3 separate regions of the Homo sapiens genome follow, and all the other regions are linked to region 3. Evidence: fine-mapped expression QTL. A gene starts in region 3. Each other region holds a variant in brackets. All regions are shown on one strand. Distances are from middle to middle.

Evidence for each region. PIP is the estimated chance that this variant, and not a neighbour inherited with it, causes the effect.
Region 1: its variant is the best candidate, but not a certain one, in a credible set for the expression of RBM23 in neutrophils (CEDAR, PIP 0.56).
Region 2: its variant is the best candidate, but not a certain one, in a credible set for the expression of RBM23 in tibial nerve (GTEx, PIP 0.51).

Annotation. Positions count from the first base shown.
Region 1 is chr14:22,891,501-22,899,678 of GRCh38, reverse strand. It overlaps RBM23 (RNA binding motif protein 23), which reads left to right. Exons shown (of 14, transcript NM_001077351.2): 14 at 1-6,475. Among named protein-coding and RNA genes, the nearest start is that of REM2, 12 kb to the right of the region's middle. The variant C/T (reference allele first, on the strand shown) is at 4,782.
Region 2 is chr14:23,017,559-23,025,736 of GRCh38, reverse strand. No RefSeq gene overlaps it. Among named protein-coding and RNA genes, the nearest start is that of C14orf93, 12 kb to the right of the region's middle. RefSeq lists an enhancer at 531-620. The variant C/A (reference allele first, on the strand shown) is at 3,438.
Region 3 is chr14:22,914,650-22,922,801 of GRCh38, reverse strand. RBM23 (RNA binding motif protein 23) reads left to right here and starts at 3,653. Exons shown (of 14, transcript NM_001077351.2): 1 at 3,653-3,803. It overlaps PRMT5 (protein arginine methyltransferase 5), which reads left to right. Exons shown (of 17, transcript NM_006109.5): 14 at 1-60; 15 at 243-359; 16 at 562-626; 17 at 1,746-2,273. The coding sequence ends at 1,898. It overlaps PRMT5-AS1 (PRMT5 antisense RNA 1), which reads right to left and starts at 3,346. Exons shown (of 2, transcript NR_120600.1): 1 at 1,682-3,346. RefSeq lists a silencer at 3,279-3,578 and enhancers at 3,839-3,908, 3,999-4,108, 4,179-4,348, 4,837-5,601.

The DNA.
Region 1 (8,178 bases), 23 kb after region 3:
GTAGGCTGGGTGCACTGGCTCACGCCTGTAATCCCAGCACTTTGGGAGGCCGAGGTGGGTGGATCACGAGGTCAGTTCAAGACCAGCCTGGCCAACATGGTGAAACTCTGTCTCTACTAGAAATACAAAAAGTAGCTGGGCATGGTGGTGGGTGCCTGTAATCCCAGCTACTCAGGAGGCTGAGACAGGAGAATCGCTTGAGCCTGGGAGGCGGAGGTTGCAGTGAGCCGAGGATGCACCACTGCACTCCAGCCTGGGCAACAGAGCGAGCCTCCATCTCAAAAAAACAGAAAAGTGTATTTCTCACAGTTCTGGAGGCTGGGAATTTCAAGAGCATGGTGCCTGCATCAGGTGGGGGTCATCCCATGTCAGAAGGGCACAAGGTAGAAATGAGTACATGAGACAAAGGGACCATGGGCCAAACTTGCTTTATAACAGCCCTCTCTCATGATAACCTGCTGTGTGATAGTGACATTAATCCACTCATGAGGGCTCTGTCCTTGTGACTCAGTCACCTCGTATTAAGCCCCATCTTCAACACTGTTGCATTGGGAGTCAAATTTCCAATGTGAACTTTTGGGGGACACATTCAAACCACAGCATTTCTGATTCTTCCAGGCCTAGATCTCACATGATGTTGCTGTTCTCCTGGTTACCACCCCCATCCCTTCCCCCATCTTATCCTAGTTTGCTTTCTGGACCGGGGGAAAAGGGAAGGAGGATGCACTATTTTTAGGTAGAAGCTGCTGGCTATGACCCAGCACCCCTACAGTTATTGATTTGGCTTCTAATGTATCTTGAGAAGTGCAGTGGGTACCGTTTTTGTTAGTCATCCTGAGGCCATGAACTGGGTCTTCTCATGGCTGGCTTGGCTCCTTCAGACTATTATAAATATCCACAGGCCTTGCCTCCCTGCCTTCCTCTGCTTGGTTTCCTTATGTTTCCATCCCTAGCTACCTTGGCCTTCCTACACTCGGATCCTTCCACCTCAGTTCTTTCTTGTTCTTAGTTCCTCACATAGCCTCTTGCTGGGAGAGAGACAATGTTGGAAGTAAGGACGTATCTAAGACAATTTCCAGTCTTACTCCATATAAGGTGATGGTATCTAGTGAGTGACAGTTGCTGTCCGTGTGTGACTCAGTGCCTTCTTGTTACTCATCCCTCCATACGAGGTGGTTAGAGTGGAGAGAAGCGGGCTGTGAACAGACTCTGGGCCCAGCTTAAGGTAAAAGAAACTTCCCTCAACATCTACCTGCACATGGTGGCTGGTGGCGTAGGGGTGACATTGTGATCTAGATCCTTTGCCAGCATAGTTAGAATTTCCCTACCAGTCTTCAGTTCTAGAAAAGATTCTCACCTGATTTTTGACTTCCAGTCTATGCTTCTGTATTCACTAAGGTGGCAGCATTTCCTCCCTGTTCTTTAAACTGCTGTGCTCTTGACACAGGAATTCTGCCTGCTTCCTCAGACTCCCAACAACCCCCAGATAGGAGTTACCAGTAGAAGCAGAGGCTTGACCTGTGAACTTTTAGTCCTGGAGCATATCATGAAGGGAATTGAGTAAAAACCTGAAGGATGGAATTATATCACAGTCCCTCTTTTCCGTGTAATGGAAAGGCTTTAGTGAAAATCAGGCAGCAACACTTGGACAGTGAAAAGAGACTCTGAAAGGTGAGGTGACAGGAGGTGGCATAATGGTCATTGTTAACATTTATGCAAGGTTGGTTGTAGGTTAGGTGTTCTAATCGTGTATTAAGTCACAAAATCCTCACAACAATCCTCTCAAGTAGTTTATTATCTTTACTTTGTAAACAAGGAAACATATCCAAATAAGTTAAATAATTTTCCCCATAAGCACAAAGTTAGCAAGTTAGGGATTCCAATCCAAGTACTCTCGCTTCAGATCCCTTGATCTTAACCTTACCTGCCTCTCAGCACCACCATGGAAGACAAGGCCTTGGAGTCAGTGAGGAAGTGTCACTTTTCCTATCCCTGTACCCATAGCTCTCCGTAGACTCAGAATTTTTCCACTGCCATGTCTTTGCTTATCTTGAGTGACAGTGTTTGTGGGTGAACCTTGAAGGTGCTCTTTCTGCTACAAGGGCCCTGGGAGATAGCATGGGCATGTGCATTGAGAAGCCAGCCTCAGACCTTATCTTGAAGCAGCTTGAGGCCAGACCTACTGTAGGCTCAGCATCTTGCTAGGAGGCATGGGAGTGATCTAACCTGCCAGCTATCTCTCTTCCTTTCCTCCTTCTGCTGATCAAAGTCCTGTCCTTTAAGACCCTGAAGCTTTCCTAGGTGGAGTTGATCTCTCTTTTCAGTATTCTTTGTCCTCTTGTGGGTCATCTTACTCTACTTTTATTTAGTAAATAAAATAATTGCAATAAAAATTATTTTATTGAAAACTCCATTACTTGATGGTTACAGCCTGATGAGGCCAGACTTGGATGTCTTTCTCATGATTGCTTTGCCTTGCACATATTAAATGTCTGTAGAATTGAATGAATGCTGTTCATTAAAGTGTTAAAGTCAGCACCAGGCTTTCCAAAGGCTGCCCCTTCTAGGCTGCTTTTCCCAGCAGCCTCATCCATTCCTTCCTCACTCCACCAGGAGAGAAGATGCAGCTTTACTCTTTCTGATGTTACCATGGTAGCCTGTGATACTTTCTTTCTAAAGTGCTGCTTGCCATCCACCAGAGACTGATGTTTCCATGGCAACCAGGTGAAGGCAATAGTCACGAGCTGGATGCAGGAAAGGAATTCCGGTCTGAGAAGCTGCATATCTGAATCTTCTAGCTTCAGACATCCTTTCCCCTCTCTCATAACTTTTGCGCTTTATATCCAGGACTGGTTTGCTCTCTGGTGTGCCCTTGGTTGAGAGAGCTCTGTGAAAGTGAGGTGAAGCAGACCAACCAACTTAGATCACGTGGGAAGGTGGGTGCAAGGAAAGAGCTGAGCAAAGATCACTTCAAAAAGTTGGATGAAGTCTATTAGTTGTTCAGATGATCTGCTCTCAAGAGCCCTTAAGGAGTTGGCTGGAGTTTCTGGAGAGCCATTAAGCAGTTATTTTTGAGAGCAATGGGTAGATGGATGAGGTGCCTGAAGACTGGAAAGCAGCCAGTCAGTGCCGGATTGTAGAAAGGAGAAACAATGACCTTGGAAATCGGAGACCCGTCAAACTTGCCAATGTTCCAGAAAGGATGGGAGTTTCAGTCAGCTTTCAGGCATCAGGAAGCCTACTTGCTTAGAATTAGTGGTGCTAAGAATTCGCCTCCTCAACTCCTGAGCATAAGCAAGCTAGGGGACCTCCACCCTGTAGCCGAGTGTCACACTCTGGAACCACACAGCATGGTTCAGATCCCTCTTCCCTCACAAACTAGCTGAATAAGCTTGGGTAGGTTACTTCACTTCTCTCACACTTCATCTGTAAAAAGGAAATGATAACACCTATCTCATAGGGATGTTGTGAGAATTCATTGAGAAAGGTTTGGAACTTGGCTCATTACTGTCCTCAGTATTTTCACTCCTCTGGATGCCTACTCACTTGATTTTCTAGCTGACTTCATTCTCCCCAACTTTAGAGCTCAAGGTTTATGGGGAAAAGCAAGGGCAGTGCAATGGTGAAAATAAATCTTCATTTTTAAATAAATAAATTGTTCCTGCACTGAAGCCCCAAGCTTACAAGGTCTTGGGTCACACACAACCTGCCTAGTTTTCAGGAAAACAGATCCCACTAGCCCAATCTCTTTATGCTTGAGGCTCTGTCCACATAGTTAGATTTTAACCAGATGGTTTCGAAAAATCAAAATGAGCCCCCCTCACAGGTACCTTCAAGGTACCTAACACCATTAGCTTTGTCTGGCAGGGGAAAAATACCAGGGCACTCAGTTTTGTTTTGTTTTGAGACAGGGTCTGGCTCTGTTGCCCATGCTGGAGTACAGTGGTGCCATCACAGCTCACTGCAGTCTCAACCTCCTGAGCTCAAATGATCCTCTTGATTAGCTGGAACTACAGGTATGTGCCACTATGCCCAGCTAAGTTTTGTATTTTTTGTAGAGATGGGGTCTTGCTATGTTGCCCAGGTGGTCTTGAACTCCTGGGCTTAAGTGATCCTCCCTCCTTAGCCTCCCAAAGTGCTAGGATTATAGGTGTGAGCCACCACAACTGCCTGAGAGCACCCTCTGTTACCACCCTTTCCTTAGCGTCTCAGCCTCCCCCAAGCACCTGTCTTTGTTGGTCTCCAGAGCCTAGCCCTACACTGGCATTTTCCTTTCTGAATAAGTATTTTTTTTATTTATTTATTTTTATTTTTTCTTTGAGATGGAGTTTCGCTTTTGTTGCCCAGGCTGGAGTGCAATGGTGCGATCTCGGCTCACCGCAACCTCTGCTTCCTGGGTTCAAGTGATTCTCCTGCCTCAGCCTCCTGAGTAGCTGGGATTACAGGCGTGCGCCACCACTCCCAGCTAATTTTGTATTTTTAGTGGAGACAGGGTTTCTCCATGTTGGTCAGGCTGGTCTCGAACTCCTGACCTCAGGTGATCCACCCGCCTTGGCCTCCCAAAGTGCTGGGATTACAGTCCTGAGCCACTGCACTGGGCCTTATTTATTTATTTTTAATTAATTAATTAATTTTTTTTGAGATGGAGTCTTGCTTTGTCGCCCAGGCTGGAGTGCAGTGGCGCAATCTCGGGTCACTGCAAGCTCTGCCTCCCAGGTTCATGCCATTCTCCTGCCTCAGCCTCCCAAGTAGCTGGGACTACAGGCACCTGCCACTATGCC[C/T]GGCTAATTTTTTGTATTTTTTAGTAGAGATGGGGTTTCACTGTTTTAGCCAGGATGGTTTCGATCTCCTGACCTAGTGATCCGCTCGCCTCGGCCTCCCAGAGTGCTGGGATTACAGGCGTGAGCCACTGCGCCCGGCTGGGCCTTATTTATGTATTTTTCTGAGACAGAGTCTCATGCTATCACCCAGGCTGGAGTGCAGTGGCATGATCTCTGCTCACTGCGATCTCTGCTCACTTCAACCTCTGCTTCCCGGGTTCAAGTGATTCTCCCACCTCAGCCTCCCGAGTAGCTGGAATTACAGGCACCCACCACCATGCCTGGCTAATTTTTGTAATTTTTTTTAGTAGAAATAGGGTTTCACCATGTTGGCCAGGCTGGTCTCTCTCTTGACCTCAAGTGATCCACCCACCTCGGCCTCCCAAAGTGCTGGGATTACAGGCGTGAGCCAATTGCCCGACCTGAGTAAGTATTTTAAATCAGCACAGGTCCTCTGCTTAAAGTCAAGTTGTAATTTGAACACAAAAATGGAAAATCATGCAGTAAAATACCATCGTGGAGCTTCAATTGCCAATCTGTCCCCCAACCTTCCATCAGATGACAAAACCCAAAAAAGTGTTACCCGTGAGTCCTATGGAAGGCACGTTGGACTTTGTAGACCATAACTTAAATTTTTATCTCCAAATGGTGCTGTGCTTTGAGAGTTTAGCAAGCTGCTTTGATGCCTAAATAAAGGGCCAGGACATAGGTTGCAAAAGGCATTACTACTTCCACCGCTTCTCTGTATAATGCTTGAGAAATTACAAAGATCTTTGCTCTTTTATTTAGTCCTCATGACTTCGCTATAAGGTAGGTATTCTTCATTTTAGAGTTGGGATAGCATAGCTGAGTTCAGCAAACCAGACAGGTTAAGAGTGACTTCATCCACAGACCCCCATCCAGGAAACATCCTGAGCACTAATTGAAAAGCATTCAAGGGCTTACTGAATTTGCATTCACATCTGGAGTTTTCAAGGCCACTAAGCTGTGGAAACTTGACATCAATATTCAAATAGATGAAAAGGGACCTTAAGCATATCCATCAGGGAGTCACCGAGATGATAAAGGCCTGAGAAGCAGTATGCTCTTGTCCGGCATTTGTGTCCTTTGACGACTGCACCATCCACCCAAATTTTGCTGCCTTCTTTATAGGAAGGGCCTTTTCCTCATGTGGTGGGCTGCCCACTGTTTCTTCTCTGTGCATTTGCTCATGTAGTTTGACCACAAGGAATGCTTTTCCTTCTTTCTCTCAACTATCTATAGCCTACATATCCTTTAAGGCCCAGTTTCTAAAATATGTCTTCCAAATTTACTGTTTCTTCCATTCAGAATTCCTGGAGCACATGAGGTAGCCCCCAGTTAGATAGAATGTGGTATTGTTTGCTGCTATTTTGCCTGTTTTGTGCTGTATCACCTCATCCATCTCCCCAGCTTAATTGCAAGCTATTTGACGGGCAGAAATTGTGTCTTATTTGTATTTGTTTTCCCCATTGGGCCCGGCACACTGATTGGCATATTGCAGATGTTTAGTACTTGAGAGAAACAAAATGTCTTCTAGCATTTGTGGATGAAAGATTAAAATGTCCAGGAAAATTTACTTAGATTGATGTGGATTGAAACTATATTAGATTAATAAAAAGATGTGTGTGTGTGAACTTCCTGGGAGTGAGGGTTTAACCCAGAGGACTTCCACGTATGACCCCGGCAGTCTTTCAGAAGAGAAGAGCCCCTGTTCCAGTCTCTCTAGAGGGCTCAGATGCAGCACGGCCTAAAAGCTCATCTGTAGGCAGAGGCCCAGAGTGGAAAAATTTCCAGATGCAGGACTCCCCCGTTCCTCTGACCCTCAGGGGAGAGCACACAAAGTCTATGCTCTGGGCCAATGAGGCGGTCTTGTGGGCAAAGGGGAGTGGGAGTAGCAGGGGCTGGGCAGGGGCTGGTAAGGGAACACGGACTCCAAGACAAAATTGCAGTGGTTAAGAGATGCATGAGGACAGAAAGGACCTTACCTGGCATGGCAGCTCAGGTCCCAGTGCCCTCTGCTGACCTCTCACCCCAGCCAAGATCAATGGCTCTACTTTGCCTTGAGAGAGAAAGAGAGAATGGCCTGGCTCTCAGAGAAGGCCTCACCTCTCCCAAGTCTGGCGGGAGCCTGGCTTCAGCTTCCGTCTGTTCTGAGCTATTCCCTGTAGGCGTCTGGAGGGAACACACAGATGGGTCGGGCTGATGGGACTGGCTGAGTTGGGGGAGGGAGGCTCATGGTGTGTGGCTCCCCTCGTGGGGGAGGTCTTGCCATCATGGTCTTCCATACACGAAAGACATGTTTTAAGCTTCTGCCACGTAAAAGGCACTGGGCCTTTCTTGTTCCTCATCCTCCTCTCTGGCCACATCTGACCATTGGTGATACTCTCCTAGAAACCCCTCCTCTGGCAGCAGTCACAACAGGCTCAATCCTAGTTCTCCCACTACCTCTTTGGCAGCTGCTTCTCCACCTTCTCCATCTATATATCCCCAGGATCTCCTTGTTCCCTCTTCTTTCTCTGGACCCCTAAGGCTTTGTTTTAAATTATTTTGTTTCTTTCTTTTTTTTTTTTTGAGACGGAGTCTCTCTCTGTCGCCAGGCTGGAGTGCAGTGGCATGATCTCAGCTCACTGCAACCTCTGCCACCCAGGTTCAAGCGATTCAGCCTCCCGAATAGCTGGGATTACAGGTGCCCACCCCTGCGCCTGATTAATTTTTGTAGTTTTTAGTAGAGATGGGGTTTCGCTATCTTGGCCAGGCTGGTCTTGAACTCCTGACCTCATGATCCACCGGCCTTGGCCTCCCAAAGTGCTGGGATTACAGGCGTGAACCACTGTGCCCGGCCTATTTCGTTTCATTTTTGAAGTGGTACTAAATGACACAGTTAAAAGTTCCAAAGGTAGGCCAGGCGCGGTGGCTCACGCCTGTAATCCCAGCACTTTGGGAGGCTGAGGTGGGTGGATCATGAGGTCAGGAGTTCAAGACTAGCCTGGCCAAGATGGTGAAACCCCCGTCTCTACTAAAAATACAAAAATTAGCTGGGCGTGGTGGTGGGCACCTGTAATCCCAGCTACTCGGGAGACTGAGGCAGGAGAATCGCTTGAACCCAGGAGGTGGAGTTTGCAGTGAGCTGAGATTGTGCCACACTGCACTCCAGCCTGGGCAACAGAGCAAGACTCTGTCTCAAAAAAAAAAAAAAAAATTTCCAAAGGTAGAAAAAGGGCATACAGGCTGGACGCGGTGGCTCAGGCCTGTAATCTCAGCACTTTGGGAGGCTGAGGCAGGCGGATCACCTGAGGTTGGGAGTTTGAGACCAGCCTGACCAACATGGAGAAACCCC
Region 2 (8,178 bases), 100 kb before region 3:
ATTGTCTAGTGAATACATTAATGTCCCCACTCATGAAGCTAATAACGGAGAAGGAGAGAGAGGCAGGGAGGAGGGAGACACTTCTCGATTTGGTTTACAAAGAGATGAAAAGTTGATGAGGTGGAAAGATGCACAGGGCTGTACCAGGCAGGGCTCCAGCGGAAAAGGCTGTCACCCTGTGGTGGGGGAAGGGAGGCTGAGGCTACATGCAGAGCGGAAGGGTGAAGAGGGTAAATCTTGACTCTTAAACCAACTGGGAAGGGAAGGCTTGGACCCTGGGAAGGGGAGGACAAAGAAGTGGCTGTGAAAGCAGTAGTAACCACAAGCTTGGTGACCCTTGTCCTTTTGGTCCTCCAGTGCATATGTGTGGAGGGGAGAGGGTAGTGATGGTGATTTTATAGCCTCCTGGTCAGGAAGCAGCACTAAATTGTCACTGGAATGTGTGGGTGGGGAAGAGGCCCTGCTGAGAGCAGAGAGATGGCTGATTTATCACACCCAGCACTGTTGGGGCTGGGGGGAGTTCCCAAGCTATGGTGGCAGCAGATGGCAAGGCCTTCTGTTAAAGAGAAGACAGGGGATAGAGGAGGTTGATGGGAGAAACCTTTAAAAAATGGGAGCGGAGGACACAAACAATACCACCTTGTATTTAGTCAGAAGGCAGAAAGTGGTTGGTGAAGGTGACAACCCAGTGTCATGTTTTGAGACTGAGAGGTTTGGAGAAGTCATTCACAGAAGAAGAGGGGGTAAACCCTCCTCTCCTGTACTGCAGCTACCTTCCCTTCCCCCTCAGCCTTGTGCAGTCTTCGTATTGATTGATGAGGGCTGTCGGCCAGGAACTGATCGAGGCTTGTTAATTGCATTTGTCAAATGCAGGGAAATTGGGAATTAGTGAAATCGGAGAAGGGGGTTTGGAAAACAAATGACTCGTGCCTAAGGAAATTTTTTGCAGGAAAGTATCTCAGGAGCCCCTGCAGTCAGGGAGCTGCTGGTGTGGACTCAGACTACATGGTTGAAATAGGCAGGAGCTGGGCGGGGCACAGTGGCTCAGGCTTGTAATCCCAGCACCAGCACTTTGGGAGACGGAGGCAGGCAGATCACTTGATGCCAGGAGTTTGAGACCAGTCTGGCCAACATGGTGAAACCTGTCTCTACTAAAAATACGAAAAATTAGCTGGGTGTGGTGGCAGGCACCTGTAATCCCAGCTACTTGGGAGGCTGAGGCAGAGGTTGCAGTGAGCCGAGATGGTGCCATTGCACTCCAGCCTGGGCAACAAAAGCAAAACTCCATCTAAAAAAAAAAAGAAAGAAAGAAATAGGCAGGACCCAAGCTACATCTTCCTTCTCGTAGACTGTTGGGAAATGGTTAGCTGCGTGAGAAGCACAGGTAGGTCATCTTCCTCCCACTTAGGACATTGGTTTGCAGATCTTAAAAAAAAAAAAGAAAAAAAAAAAAGCACTCTTAGGAGAAATCCCAATGCCTGAAAAAAAAATCAGAGGTTGAAATTGAGCTGAGAGGTCCAGAGCCTCCACTATTGAGCTTCCCCATCCAGCCACTCCCCGCAGCACCCTTTGTTAGCCCCATACACATACACAGTCCCTGGCACTTCTTGGAACCTCAAGGAACACAATTTGAACACCTCTTCCCTGGGAAATAGCCTTAAGGATAGAAAGAGAATTGAAGATTGGAATTTCCTTACATGACCCCAGAGAGCATAAGACCCCAGCTTTGGTCCATGAACAGAAAATTCATTCTGGAGAGAAGAGATGATCGTGAAACAATGCAACCCTTTGCCCTGTTTCTGTCTCACACTTTGCTTTGGCAGTGGTTTAGCTGTTTAACGGAAACACCTATTCTGCACTGGCAGAGTCCTTATGTTAGAAGAGAAAATGCATGTTCTGTTCTGGCATATCCCTGTTGATCTACCTTCCTGGGTCTTGGGTAAAAGACTCATTTAATGGAAGAGCTCGATTTGTGGTAGGTTTTTCTGGGAAGAAAGTAGAGCAGAGGTAGGGAAAAACTGCAAGTCTGTAGGCTAGTGGTATCCACCCTGTGCATTTGTGATTTCTTGCTGATGGTTACTGGGGGGAAATTGGCTTTGCAGCGATGTGTGTCTCCGCTTGTGTGGGAATGATGGATGCCGCATAGGATTGGAGAGATGTTTTTGAGTGGAGTGTACCAGTTCAGGGACTCCCATCAGATTCATTTCCCAGTACAGTCCTCTTGACAAAGGATGATGGAAAAGAAATCGCCTTAAATAGCTGGAAGATTAATTTCTCTCAGCAGTTCCCAGGCGTCCAAGGGACTGGGCTCTTTAAGTGATGTCTGACAACTTCTCTTCCCTCAACAGATAACTCAGTAACACCAAAATCTGGCTCCTCGGGGTAGGTGATGGGACTAATCTGATTAAATAGGGAGCAAATACTCCTGGAGGCCCCTTGCTTTCTCTTGCTAGCCTTCCAGCATCTGCACACCAGGCAAGGGAGGGCTGTGGGGAGTAGCAGTGCACTGTGGGGTGAGTAGAATGTTCATGAAGGAAGGTGAAAAGGTAGGTGAGGATGTGGGGGAGGAGGGAGGAAGGGCACAGTTAACGCAAATCAAAGACTGAAGGATAATAGTTACTGAGTGTTCCTCTTTAGGCAAAACCAGAAGGTCAGTGTCTCTTGATATCCTCCTCAGCTAGCAAATGAGAAAACTGTCAGAGCCATTTGGGGAGTGGAAGGTCACATCCTCCGAGGGGAAATAAAATAACTGATTTATTCTGGCCCACGGATTCTATGTGGTCTGTTAGGGGAAGGAAGAAAGAGGTGGGATGAAAAGAGAATAAAGTAGAAAAAAAAAGGTGGATGGAAATTTTGAGGGGAGCATTTCCCTTGTGTCAGGAGTAACAAGGATAGGATGATTGGGTTAGGAGAGAATCTACATGACCATATCTAATTTTCGGTGGATACATTTAGGTTTTTAATTTTCTTTTATTTTTGTTTCTTTTGTTAGATCTTCCCCTGACCTGCTCCCAGGGCTATAACAGATACGGACTTTGAAACTGTATGGAGTATAGAGCAGTGCTCTATAATTTAAAATATACATATATTGCAACCAAGCACCTCTGCTGTTTTGCGTTTGTTTCTTGTTTGTTTTTATAAATTCTAGTTTCCCTTCAGGAAGCCAGAATCATACTGGGAATGCTTTAATTATAGTGGGCAAGAGGGAGCTCAAACAGCAATCAGAACTGCCCTGATCAGCAGCTGCTGCCACCTTCTACCTGACCTGGGCCACCCCTCTTTTTCCCCCCAAGTCAGCCTCCCGTGCTCCCCAGGCGTGGCTTCAGAGCCAAGTTCTGGTTTCCAGGAGCTCTGCCCCCACTGAAGCATTTCAATAAAAAACATTTCTAAAATGTCCCCTTTGCAGTTGTTAGTGGGTCAAGCAGAAGAAATTCTAC[C/A]CACGTCAGCTTCTTGGGCTTATTTGACCCAACTCATTTCTCCCAGAAGCTTTTGCCTCTGAGTTAGGTGCCAAGCTTAAGCTGGTATTTAACTCTTTATGGTCCAGATTAAGCTGTCATCAGCCATAAAGATATGACCCAGTTTATTTGAAAAGAAATAAGACACCATGGGTTCGACACGTTCTGATGCTTCCCATTACTTATCCCCGGCCCCATCTTAGGCTGTTCCTCCCTTTGCCTCGTTCCATGTTTTCTCTCTGCTCTCTCACTTTATAAAAATTCTCTTTCCTTTGCAGAGTTTAAATAAAAACCAATCAATCAATAAACCAAGGGCTGCTTATAGGCTTTACTGTAACAAGAAAAGGTTATCATTAACTGCAGGGTACCCAAAAAGCTGGTATTATAGAGGAAAACAGATGGAATGGCAGAAAGTGAACTAGAGAGAACAAGAGACAAACCAGAGACAAACAAAAGCGACTCCCAGACAGCAAGCGCGAGATTGAGCAAAGTGCAGAGGGAGATGTGAACGTGGCAGAGAAAGATGGATGGAGATATTGACAGGCAGAGCTGGACTGTGAATGGGGGCAGACAGGGAGTGGGAAAGGAGACTAAGAAGGACAGTGATAGAGAGAGTGGGCAGAAAAACAGGGAGGAAGGAAGCGGCTCGAAGCTAATGCACAGTGAAACATGTCCCCCTGGAGACAGATAATTTCTCCAGCCATACGTAATGAACACGTGCCTCTCTGTGTGTTGCCCCTGTACTGTCACAGTCACTTAAATTCTGCAAGAATCTCTCCATGTCTACACCACTTATGCGAGGTTGGAAAGAAGGTTTGGGCTCTCACAACCCCCATCTCAATCCAGCCAGGCCGAAGACAGAAAATTAGAAACCTGTGTCGTAAAAGTAACAGGGTGAGTGAGGCAGGATCACAGATCCAGTACCTTCGAAAATTTGTTTTTAGGTTCACTAAGAAGCCTTCTCTCCCCACACCTCCATACTCCCTGGCAACACACATCATACACACATAACTCATCCTCTTTTCTGCAAACATGCCTGCAGATCAGGGCCTAGGGTGCCTAAGTCAGGAGAGGGAAGCCACTACCTCCCAGGAAGACTGAGGAATAGCACATGTCAGGTAAGACGAGAAATAAGTAGGTCCAAATAGAAGTAGGTGTAGCCTACAAGGCACCAAGGTAGAGGGGATGTTTTTGCACGACCGCAGCTCTTTTCTCATTCTAGCCTCAACACCATCACTATCCCAGAGACACCTATGCACTCTAAGCCTCCCCATGCATACAGAGTTTCACACAATACACAGGCTTTTTTTCACAGCAGCTTATCTCCAGCGGTGATGTGTGGTATTGTCTGATTAGAGGGAATCCTCTGAGCACCATGGTTATGTGGGAGGGCTCATAATCACCATGTCTCCCTTGAGTCTTGAGTTTGCGCTCATAGCTTAGTCTTTAGAAAAGAAAGCAATGGAGCATTTTAAACCAACACAACATATTCAGCATAGTCCTGCATTTCCAAGCACCTCCTAAAGAGGAAAAATGCATAAAGGTGGATCAATCCAAGTGCGGTCCTTGGCTAGGGGTCAGCACTGTTCTACATCTCATTTAAACAGCCTTAGGGCCAGGTGCCATGGTTCACACCTATAATCCCAACACTTTGGGAGGCCAAGGTGGGAGGATCACTTGAGCTCAGGAGTTCAAGACCATCTGGGCAAAATAATGAGACCCCCATCTCTACAAAAGATATTAAAATTTAGCCAGGTGTGGTGGTACATACCTCTAGTACCAGCTCCTCAGGAGGCTGAAGCAAAAGGATCACTTGAACCTGGGACATGAGGCTGCAGGGAGCTGTGATCGCACCACTGCACTCCAGCCTGGGTGACAGAGTTAGACCCTGTCTCAAACAAAACAAAACAAATCAAAAAACAGCCTTAGGCATGTGCCACATCAAACAGCATCTATGTAGTGTCTCTGGTTGTTTCCTGGCATGTCTGCCTGCTTTTTCAGTTAAGCACTATAGTGTAGTTTTTACTTGTTCCCCCACAGTGTCTAGCATGCTGTTGGCTACTCAGGAAAGATATATAATAAATGTACTTTTAATAAATGAATTAATGAGGCTAGGTGCATTAGCTGACGCCTGTAATCCTAACACTTTGGGAGGCCGAGGTGGGTGGATCACTTGAGGTCAGGAGTTCGAGGCCAGCCTGGCCAACGTGGTGAAACTCTGTCTCTACTAAAATACAAAAATTAGCTGGGTGTGGTGGTGTGCACCCGTAATCCCAGCTACTTGGGAGGCTGAGGCAAGAGAATCACTTGAACTGCAGCGCAGGCTGCACTGAGCAGAGATTCCACTAGCCACTATACTCCAGCCTGGGCAACAGAGCAAGACTCCACTACAAAAAAAAAAAAAATACAGAATTAATGAATGATTGCCAGGCGCGGTGGCTCACGCCTGTAATCCCAGCACTTTGGGAGGCCGAGGCAGGCGGATCACCTGAGGTCAGGAGATCGAGACCAGCCTGGCTAACACAGTGAAACCCCATCTCTACTAAAAATACAAAAAAAAATTAGCCGGGCATGGTGGCAGGCGCCTGTAGTCCCAGCTACTCGGGAGGCTGAGGCAGGAGAATGGCGAGAACCCGGGAGGCGGAGGTTGCAGTAAGCAGAGATAGCGCCACTGCAGTCTGGCCTGGACGACAGCGAGACTCCGTCTCAAAAAAAAAAAAAAAAAAAAAAGACCAGCCTGGCCAACACGGTGAAACCTCGTCTCTACTAAAAATACAAAAATTAGCCAGGCGTGGTGGCAGGCACCTGTAGTCCCAGCTACTCGGGAGCCTGAGGCAGGAGAATCGCTTGAACCTGGGATGTGGAGGTTGCAGTGAGCCGAGATTGCGCCATTGCACTCCAGCCTGGGGAACAAGAGCGAGACTTCATCTCAAAAAAAAAAAAAAAAAAAAAAATTAATGAATGATTTCACTATGGTGTCATTTTGCCAGTGGTTCCTACCCTTCTTAGCACTGTGACTCCCATATTGTTTAATTTTAAGATGCCCTTTGCTGCTCTTAAACATACTATGGGCCAGGCACGGTGGCTCATGGCTATAATCCTAGTGCTTTGGGAGGCCAAGGCAGGTGGATCACCTAAATTCAGGAGTTAAAACCAGCCTGGCCAATATGGTGATGAAACTCTGTCTCTATTAAAAATACAAAAATCAGCCAGGTGTGGTGGCATGCGCCTGTAATCCCAGCTACTCAGAGGCTGAGGCAGGAGAATCACTTAAACCTAGGGGGCAGAGGTTGCAGTGAACCAAGATTGTACCACTTCGTTCCAGCCTGGGTGAAAGAGTGAAACTCTGTCTCAAAAAAACAAAAAAACAAAAACAAAAACAAAAAAACTATGAAACGTATATTAATTTTTAAAATTAAGACAAATTAAAATTACTTGTTTTGTGAATTTCTTTTTTTTTTTTTTGAGACAGAGTCTCGCTCTGTCGCCCAGGCAACATTGGCGCAATCTCGGCTCACTGCAATCTCTGCCTCCCAGGTTCACGCCATTCTCCTGCCTCAGCCTTCCCAGTAGCTGGGGCTACAGGCGCCCGCCACCATGCCCGCTAATTTTTGTTTTTTTTGTATTTTTTAGTAGAGACGGGGTTTCACCGTGTTAGCCAGGATGGTCTTTTTTGTTTTTTTGGGACTTTTTTTTTTTCTTTTTGACACCACTGCACTCTAGCCTGGGCGACAGAGCGACACTCCATCTCAAAAAAAAAGAAATAACATAAATGTAAAGAAGATAATGAAGAAGGCAAAGAGGAGAAAAATGAGTAGATAGATGCCAGCTATTATATGTAGAAGAAATAACAGAATTTGAAAAATCACCATTTGGCAAACCCCAATGCAAAAATAGGAAGGTGCAAGGTTGTGGAAGAACAGGATATTCACATTATCTAAGATAATCACTGTATTAGTTTGCTAAGGCTGCTATAACAAAACACCATAGTCTGAGTGGCTTAAACAACAGAAATTACTTTCTCCCAGTTCTGGAGGCTGTAGGTCCAAGATCAAAGTATCAGCAGTGTTGATTTCTTCTGAAGCCTCAGTCCCCTTGGCTTGCAGAGAGCTGCCTTCTCACTGTATCCTCACATGGTCTTTCCTCTGTGCACCACAGGTATCTCTTTGTGTCCAAATTCCCTCTTCTTATAAGGACACCAGTCAGACTGGCTCTACCCTAAGTGCCTCATTTAACTTAATCACTTCTTTAAAGACTCAGTCTCCAAATACAGTCGAATCCTGAGGTACTGGAGGTTAGGGCTTCAGTATATAAGTTTTAGGGGAACACATTTCAGCCCATAACAATCACTCTATTTATTATTAGTTTACTAATTAATTACAAATGGCAAATATACTTCTACAACAGAGACGTCTAGCAGACATGAATAAACTTGCAGTCACCAATAATAGAACAAACTGACATTATATGCCTCTTGATGTGATACAATAAGAAGTATATAAAATTACCTAAGTAATATTCTCGCTAAAAATGTTTAACCTTGGCCCTGATGTGGTGGCTCATGCCTATAATTCCAGCATTTGGGGAGGCCAAGGCAGGAGGATCCCTTGAGCCCAGGAGTTTGAGACCAGCCGGGGCAACATAGGGGGATCTTGTCTCTACCAAGTAATAACTTTTTAAAATTAGCAGGGCATGGTGGCATGCACTTGTAGTCCCAAGCTAC
Region 3 (8,152 bases):
ACAACTTCCACCAGCTCTCTGCACCCCAGCCCTGTTTCACCTTCAGCCATCCCAACAGAGGTAGGTTCTTTTATGGCTGTCCTCTGACTAGAGGGGTACGGGCTTCTTCCTTCCTCCTGCTTTCTTCCCTTACTGTCCCTAGTCTGCCTTATCTACTCTTCCTTTCCTGGGTCTTGCTCATGCTTTATCAAGTTGTCTAGAGCTTCTGGCCCCTTGTCACCCACATAATTATTTCCTGACAGATCCTATGATTGACAACAACCGCTATTGCACCTTGGAATTTCCTGTGGAGGTGAACACAGTACTACATGGCTTTGCCGGCTACTTTGAGACTGTGCTTTATCAGGACATCACTCTGAGTGAGTGTCTATGGCAGTAGATGGCAGAGTATGAGGGTGTGCTTCCTGGGCAGCTTATATGTACATGTGTCATTTAGATTTATGGGGGGCCCAGTGCTCAATGAATGGAGATCTTTGTGTGATTAGAGAAGAGACCCTCTTCAGCATAGGCAAAAGTCACAGCCATGGAGACCTCTGTTTTTTCATTATTTTGTCCACACAGGTATCCGTCCAGAGACTCACTCTCCTGGGATGTTCTCATGGTTTCCCATCCTCTTCCCTATTAAGGTAGGAACTGCTTTTAAGACTCTCTAGTTAAGCAGTAACCTTTGCCTTTGGTGTTGTGCTTCTTTCCTTCTCCCAGGAAGATAGTTGACTATGACTCATGTTCTCCTGATTTCATATGCTCTTGGATCCCAGTGGTAGGTGTTGGGAGTATTTGGAGTGGCCTTCTGCCTGGCTTTCCCGCATCTACTCTGGCTACTCTTCTGTCTGTTCTCTACTTTGAGCAAGAGTCATCTTTTAAAAACTCAAATTTGATCTTATCTCTCTTGCTGTCTTTTTTTTTTTTTTTTTTTTAAAGAGACGGAGTCTCACTCTGTCGCCCAGGCTGGAGTGCAGTGGCACAATTTCGGCTCACTGCAAGCTCCGCCTCCCGGGTTCATGCCATTCTCCTGCCTCAGCCTCCCTGAGGCTGAGATTACAGGTGCCAGCCACCACACCCGGCTAATTCTTGTATTTTTAGTAGAGACGGGGTTTTACCGTGTTAGCCAGGATGGTCTCGATCTCCTGACCTCATGATCCGCCCACCTCAGCCTCCCAAAGTGCTGGGATTACAGGCGTGAGCCACCGCGCCTGGCCTGATCTTATCTCTCTTTTTTGCTTAAAACTCTTCAATGCCTTCCCATTGTCTTTAGGATAAAAGTCAAAATCTGGGACATTGCTTGTAAGACTTGATGTGATCGAGTGTTTGCTTGCCTTTGCAGCTACTGTCCCCTTGCTTACACTGCTTCAGCCTTATGGACCTTCTTTTTGTTCTAATTGTCTATCTTCTTTCCTACCTCAGGCTTTCATGCCTTTCTCTTGCCTGTAGAGTTCTTTGCTTGTCTCTTCACACAGTTAACCTATCTTCTAGGTCTTCTTTAAACATTTTTATTGTGAGATAAACTTTCTCTGATCTCCTAGACTAGGTTAGTGTTCCCTTTCATAGGTGTTTTTCTGACTCTGTACATGTTCACAGCTCTCACCACACCTTTGATTATTTGTGTTCTGATAGGCTTCAAATAACTTTCATGAGGGTTGGGACAGTCTTGTCATGTTTATCATTTTATCTCCACACCTACCTTAATACATTGCCATGTATAATTCATAGCTTCACCCTGAACCTTCCTGTCTTTCTTCTTACAGCAGCCCATAACGGTACGTGAAGGCCAAACCATCTGTGTGCGTTTCTGGCGATGCAGCAATTCCAAGAAGGTGTGGTATGAGTGGGCTGTGACAGCACCAGTCTGTTCTGCTATTCATAACCCCACAGGCCGCTCATATACCATTGGCCTCTAGCCCTGCGTGCCAAGTGTCCAGAGCCTTGGAAGCAGCTTCAGGTTCTGCTCCTGTAGTACAGAAGGTGCAGTACATCTATGGGCTGTGATTCCCCTTGCCCATCAGAGAGGAGCATTTCAATCTGCTTTCCTGCCTTACATCAAGGTGGGCAAGGGATTATAATTAATTGCAGGGCTCAAGCCACCAATCTATGAAGACCTCAGGCCAGGGGGTGAGGAATTAGTGCTGGATTTGAAGCTACGCACTCAGCCTCAAGAACTCCCTGGAATATCCCTGAGAACATGGGGTTTGAACGGATTTTCAGCCTTTTTCTGTTCTTGTTTTGATGGTTTTGTGTAAGAGGAAATACAAATAAAGTTATAGCCCTTTACTGCACGACCATGCTGCCCCCTGCCACTATTTTCCCACACCTCACTTAGACCCAGGCATGTTCAGATCTGTCCTCTTAGCCTATCCAAGACCCAAAGGGGCCTAGTTGTATTCCCTACTTAGGAAGCTGAGCAATGACTATTGTAGTCCTGGATATAGGCCTTTCTGACCAGCTACAGTGAGCTCTTGTCCATTAGAACCTACAGTTAGGCTTTTCTCTGGGGAGGAGGCATAGAGTTTGCCACCTTGGAAAAAGATGGAATAGTGAGTGAAGCCAGTTTCTCTTCTGTATTCTTGAGCTACTGCACGGGCAACTGGTTACCTCTCCTTTGTTACCTCTTGGGAAGACTGGAATCCATCCAGGAATCTCCAGCAAGAAGCTACCTGTTTTTTTTGAATAAAACCACAGGGTTACAGTTTGAAGTCCTAAGAGATCATCTAGTCCAATTTTCCATTTTACAGAGGGGGAGTTTGAAATGGGTACAATGATGTGATATTAGTATCCAAGTCAGAATTGGAAGTCAGGTCCTCCGACTCTGGCTCTCCCCATGTTATAACCAGCTACATTTTTGGTAGCTACAGTAGACCACAGAAGTGTCTAGGGGCTCCTGGAGGCCCCTGGAAAGTGAGGGTGGACATCAGTTCCTTCTTTCCGGTTAGAGGACTCAGTACTGCTACATCCAAGGAGTCACCTGAGAAACTTTCAAATTTACCCTTGCAGTGGGAAATGTGGGGGTACTGATTTGAACGGAAGTTATGACCTGTGGGAGCAGGCCATGACGATAGGGCAGAGTGTGGGCCAAGACAAGTCTGTGGCAAGATCTGCTTTTCCCTGGTCCCAAGCACCGAGGTCAGGAGAGGTGGTCGGGAAGGTTGTTTAGGTAGCCGGCTCAGAACGGGGATTTCGAGTTCAGCATCCCCGGACGTTAAACAAACGCCGCTGTTCTCTACAAAGCTTAACCTTAACGACCGACGTGACTCCTTCAGCAAATCCGAGTAGGGACGGCCAAGGATGTAAATTGTGCCTCCTCGTTGGCTCCGCCCATCGCACTGGTCTAGTCTACGCGAGCACCAGGAGTGGGGTTGGTGGCTTCTTCACTCCCGTTTTCAGTCCCGTTTTCCCCGCCCTCCGCAAGTCATTTAACCAATGAGAGAGTGATGGGCGGCTACCAAAGGACGCTTCCATTTTCTGGAGTCTCTGAGGTTAGCCAATCAATGGGAACTCGGTGGTTGCTAAGACGCATTTGAGTTTGCTCCACCCATACTTAGGACTTTAGCCAATGAGAACCTGTACTTTGGACGGTTGCCGCGAAACCAGTGAGGTTATTTCCAAAGCCGGGGAGTCTTGGCGCATGCGCAGATTGGGGAAGGTTCTGGAAGACGGCAGAGCTGCCGCCATTTTGCGGGAAGAGGAGGCTCTGTACCTGCAGTGCTGCTTTTCTTGCCTAGACTCTAGGAACTATCCGAGCTCCACTCCCCACAACATACTCAAAGGAACGGAGAGAACCGGGACCCCCCTGCGGGGACCCGGAACTGGTGAGAAACCCCAAAACCCGGTCCCCACCAGACGTCACCAATGCGTGACGTTGCTGCACGGCGCCTCCCCCCTGACGTCACGGGCAGAAAATGGCGTCACGAAGAGATTCAGGCGAACTTTTAACATTAAAAAAACCTTTGTTTGTTTTGACCTGGAAGTGTTAGCTACTTAAATGTAGCCCACTGCCACGATTTTAGAGTTGGGCACCCTCGTGGCTGTATCTTGCACCGATAAAGATGCGGTTTCTAGAATCCTGTGATTTTTCTTTCCGGGTCTCTGCAGCCGTGACACTTAGGGTCGCCCACACTGGAGAGGGAGCATCGACCCTCCGCGGCCTGAGAGGACACGCATCATCAGTTTCAGCCACTCGCACCACCATTCAGAGAGAGAGAAGGGAATTGAGCTTTCTTCCTCAATCTCTAGTCTGTCGAAGATTCATGTTCACTATGTTGACCTTTATGGGCTTTTCCCATTTAACTTTTTCAAGCACTCATTCCAGTAGGCGTATTATGATGCCACATATGAAGATTGAGCCCTGGGACACTGGCTCCCGCAGAGATTGTGCCAGTTGGTTGCCTATAGGACCTCTTTTTTTTTATTTTTTTAAGGCGGAGTGTCGCTTTGTCACCCAGGCTGGAGTGGAGTGGCGCGATCTCGGCTCACTGCATCCTGTCTCCCGGGTTCTAGCGATTCCCCTGCCTCAGCCTCCCGAGTAGCTGGGATTACAGGCGCCTGCCACAACGCCCGGCTAATTTTTGTATTTTTAATAGAGATGGGGTTTTGCCATGTTAGCCAGGCTGACCTCGAACTCCTGACCTCAGGTGATCCACCCGCCTCGGCCTCCCAAAGTGCTGGGATTACAGGCGTGAGCCACCGCGCCCGGCCTATAGGACCATTTTTTAAAGCTACACAACATGGGGAGGGTGGTCCTTCAAGTAGCTTTTATCGTTCTCATTGTTCCTCTTTTGTTAAGCTGCCTTCAGTTTGTAGGTGTTTGTGCCCAGCTAAGTGATCAGACCCTGGGGATGGCGCTACCATCACCCCTGGGGCTCCAGCTTTTCGTGAATTCTTCCCGAATTGGTCTGACAGTGGTTCTCTCTGCTCCTTTAGCAGTGGGGTCTATCTGTTGGCTTGTGCTATGACGAGGTCTAGGAACTGACGTGATTGTGGGTCTCTAATACTGTTTTTGGAGCAGGATGGAAGAAAACATACTCTATGTGGATGAGATTGAGTGGACCTTGACCCATAAGTTGGGACATGAAGAGAGCGTTTGAAAACTACCAACCTGGGCCGGGTGCAGTGGCTCACGCCTGTAATCCCAGCACTTTGGGTGGCCGAGGCGGGCGGATCACGAGGTCAGGAGATCGCGACCATCCTGGCTAACACGGCGAAACCCCGTCTCTACTAAAAATACAAAAAAAAAACAAAAAAGAAGAAAAAAGAAAAAACTACCAGCCTGAAAATGCATAGTGTTTGCTACCTTATTGCTTTTAGCACATCTAGAAAGACACTAAACCCAGTGAGATTGCAAGTTTCAAAATATTGTGTTGTATATGGCTTTGCTTAAACGGATATATTTGTTTCTGAGTGAAAACTTTTTACGTAGAGGTTTATTTGTAGAGGCTTGTAAACTTAAGTGTAAGTTTTAGTGTGTGTGTTAAGTTGTTCTTACCCCGCATTAGCACTCAACAATGAGCAGTTCTTGAAATCAAGCATTTCATTTGGAGGGGAAAAAGCAGATTGTAAAAAATAGTTCATAACAGAAAATTTGTGTAGACTTGGCAGCAAAAATGACTGAAACAGCTTGAGTATAAAAAACTTTTCTTTTTAGGCCGGGCTCGGTGGCTCATGTCTGTAATCCCAGCCCTTTGGGAGGACCAGGCAGGCGGATCACCTGAGGTCAGGAGTTCGAGACCAGCCTGACCAATGTGGAGAAACCCCGTCTCTGCTAAAAATACAACATTAGCCAGGTGTGGTGGTGCCTGCCTGTAATCCCAGCTACTTGGGAGACTGAGACAGGAGAATTGCTTGAACCTGGGAGGTGGAGGTCGCAGTGAGCCGAGATTGCGCCATTGCACTCCATCCTGGGCAACAAGAGTGAAACTCTCTCAAAAAAAAACAAAAACAAACTTTTCTTTTTAGAACTATTTTCCCATAGTGTATATTAGTCTAATACCTTTAAGCATACACTGTACATGCCTCAGATATAGGAGACTCACAATGAGGTTTAGCTAATGGGACTGATTATTTTGATAAACATATGAGAAGAACATTCATGTTCAGTGAGTATATATTTAAAAGTAGGTATCTTGGTATACTGTGTCCTTTTTTTTTTCCTTTAAAGTTAATTACAAACCATATGAGAAGTAATCTGATATAATAGATATAATGTTAGATTTGAAGTCAGAAAACCTTTCTGATCAAGAATTAGCTCCTCTGGCCAGATGTAATCCTAGTACTTTGGGAGGCTAAGGTGGGTGGATCTGTTGAGTCCGGGAGTTTGAGACCAGCCTGGGCAACATAGTGAGACCATGTCTCTACCAGAAAAAAAAAAAAAGCCCAAAATATGAAAAGTTAGCCTGGCATCATAGTGCACACCTGTGGTCCCAGCTACTGGGGAAGCTGAGGTTAGAGGATTGCTTGAGCTAGAGAGGCAGAGGTTGCAGTGAGCCGAGATTGCAACATTACACTCCAGCTTGGGCAACAGAGTGAAATCCTGTCTCAAAAAAAAAAAAAAACATTCTTCCCTTTGAGCTGTGTGACCTTCTCTGTTTTGGGGATTGAGACAGAATCTCAATCTGCTGCACAGACTGGATTGCAGCGGCATGATCACAGTTCACTGCAGCCTCAACTTCCTGGGTTCAAGCGATCCTTCCATTTCAGGCTCCTGAGTAGTTGGGACTACAGGCACGCACCACCATGCGTGGCTAATTTTTATATTTTTTGTAAAAATGGGGCCTCACTGTATTGCCCAGGCTGATTTTGACTTGGCCTCAAGCCATTCTCCAGCCTTAGCTTCCCAAAGTGCTGAGATTGCAGGCGTGAGCCACCCCCTCTGCCTGGCCCTTGAGCTATGTATGACTTTGAGCAGTTCAAAAAACGTTAGTTTTAAAAAATTTGGGTATGAATCATATATTACCTGTCTGCAGCATTTGTTACCTTTGATTGCTAAATAAATATAAAGTGTTACTGGAAGAAGTAGAAGGCCGGGCACAGTGGCTCATGCCTGTAATCCCAGCACTGGGAGGCCGAGGCAGGCGGATTACCTGAGGTCAGGAGTTTGAGACCAGCCTGGCCAACATGGTGAAACTTTGTCTCTACTAAAAATACAAAAATTAGTGGGACGTAGTGGCGGGCACCTGTAATCCCAGCTACTCAGGAGGCTGAGGCAGGAGAATCGCTTGAACCTGGGAGGCAGAGGTTGGCGTGAACTGAGATTGTGCCACCGCACTCCAGCCTGGACAACAGAGCTAGACTCCTTCTCAAAAAAAAAAAAAAAAAGCCAGGCATGGGGCTTATGCCTGTAATCCCAGCACTTTGGGAGGGCGAGGCGGTCGGATCACCTGAGGTCGAGAGTTCGAGACCAGCCTGACTAACACGGAAAACCTGGTCTCTACTAAAAATACAAAATTAGCTGGATGTGGTGGCGCATGCCTGTAATCCCAGCTACTCAGGAGGCTGAGGCAGGAGAGTTGCTTGAACCTGGGAGGCAGAGGCAATTGAGTTTACTGGTTTTTATGTATACCAATTTGATTTGGGTTTAATTTCCATTTAAGCCTTAAATTTGGCTCCAAGTAATTTTTCTCTAAGAATCTTCTCTCTCCATAACATGCTTAGCACAGTGTCTAGCAGTTGTAGGTACTGTAAGTCATAGAATCATAGTTGTAATTATTACACTTATTTAATTGTCAAAATAGGATATGGACTCTTAGGGCAACCAAGGCAGCATTGTTGCATAGTGCATTAGCTGCTTTAAAGAGGACAAAGTTCCTCTTTTTTTTTTTTTTTTTTGAGATGGAGTCTTACTCCATCTTACACCCAGGCTGGAGTGCAGTGGTGTGATCTCGGCTCACTGCAACCTCTGCCTCCCAGGTTCAAGCGATTCTCCTGTCTTAGCCTCTTGAGTAGCTGGGACTACAGGCGCCCACCACCATGCCCGGCTAATTTTTGTGTCTTTAATGGGGATGAGGTTTCACCATATCCGTCAGGCTGGTATTGAACTCCTGACCTCAGGTGATCCACCCACCTTGGCCTCCCAAAGTACTGGGATTACAGGGTGAGCCACCACGGCTGGCCAACAAAGTTCTTACAGTTATGAAAAAGTCTGATTATGATAGCCTCCTTGCAT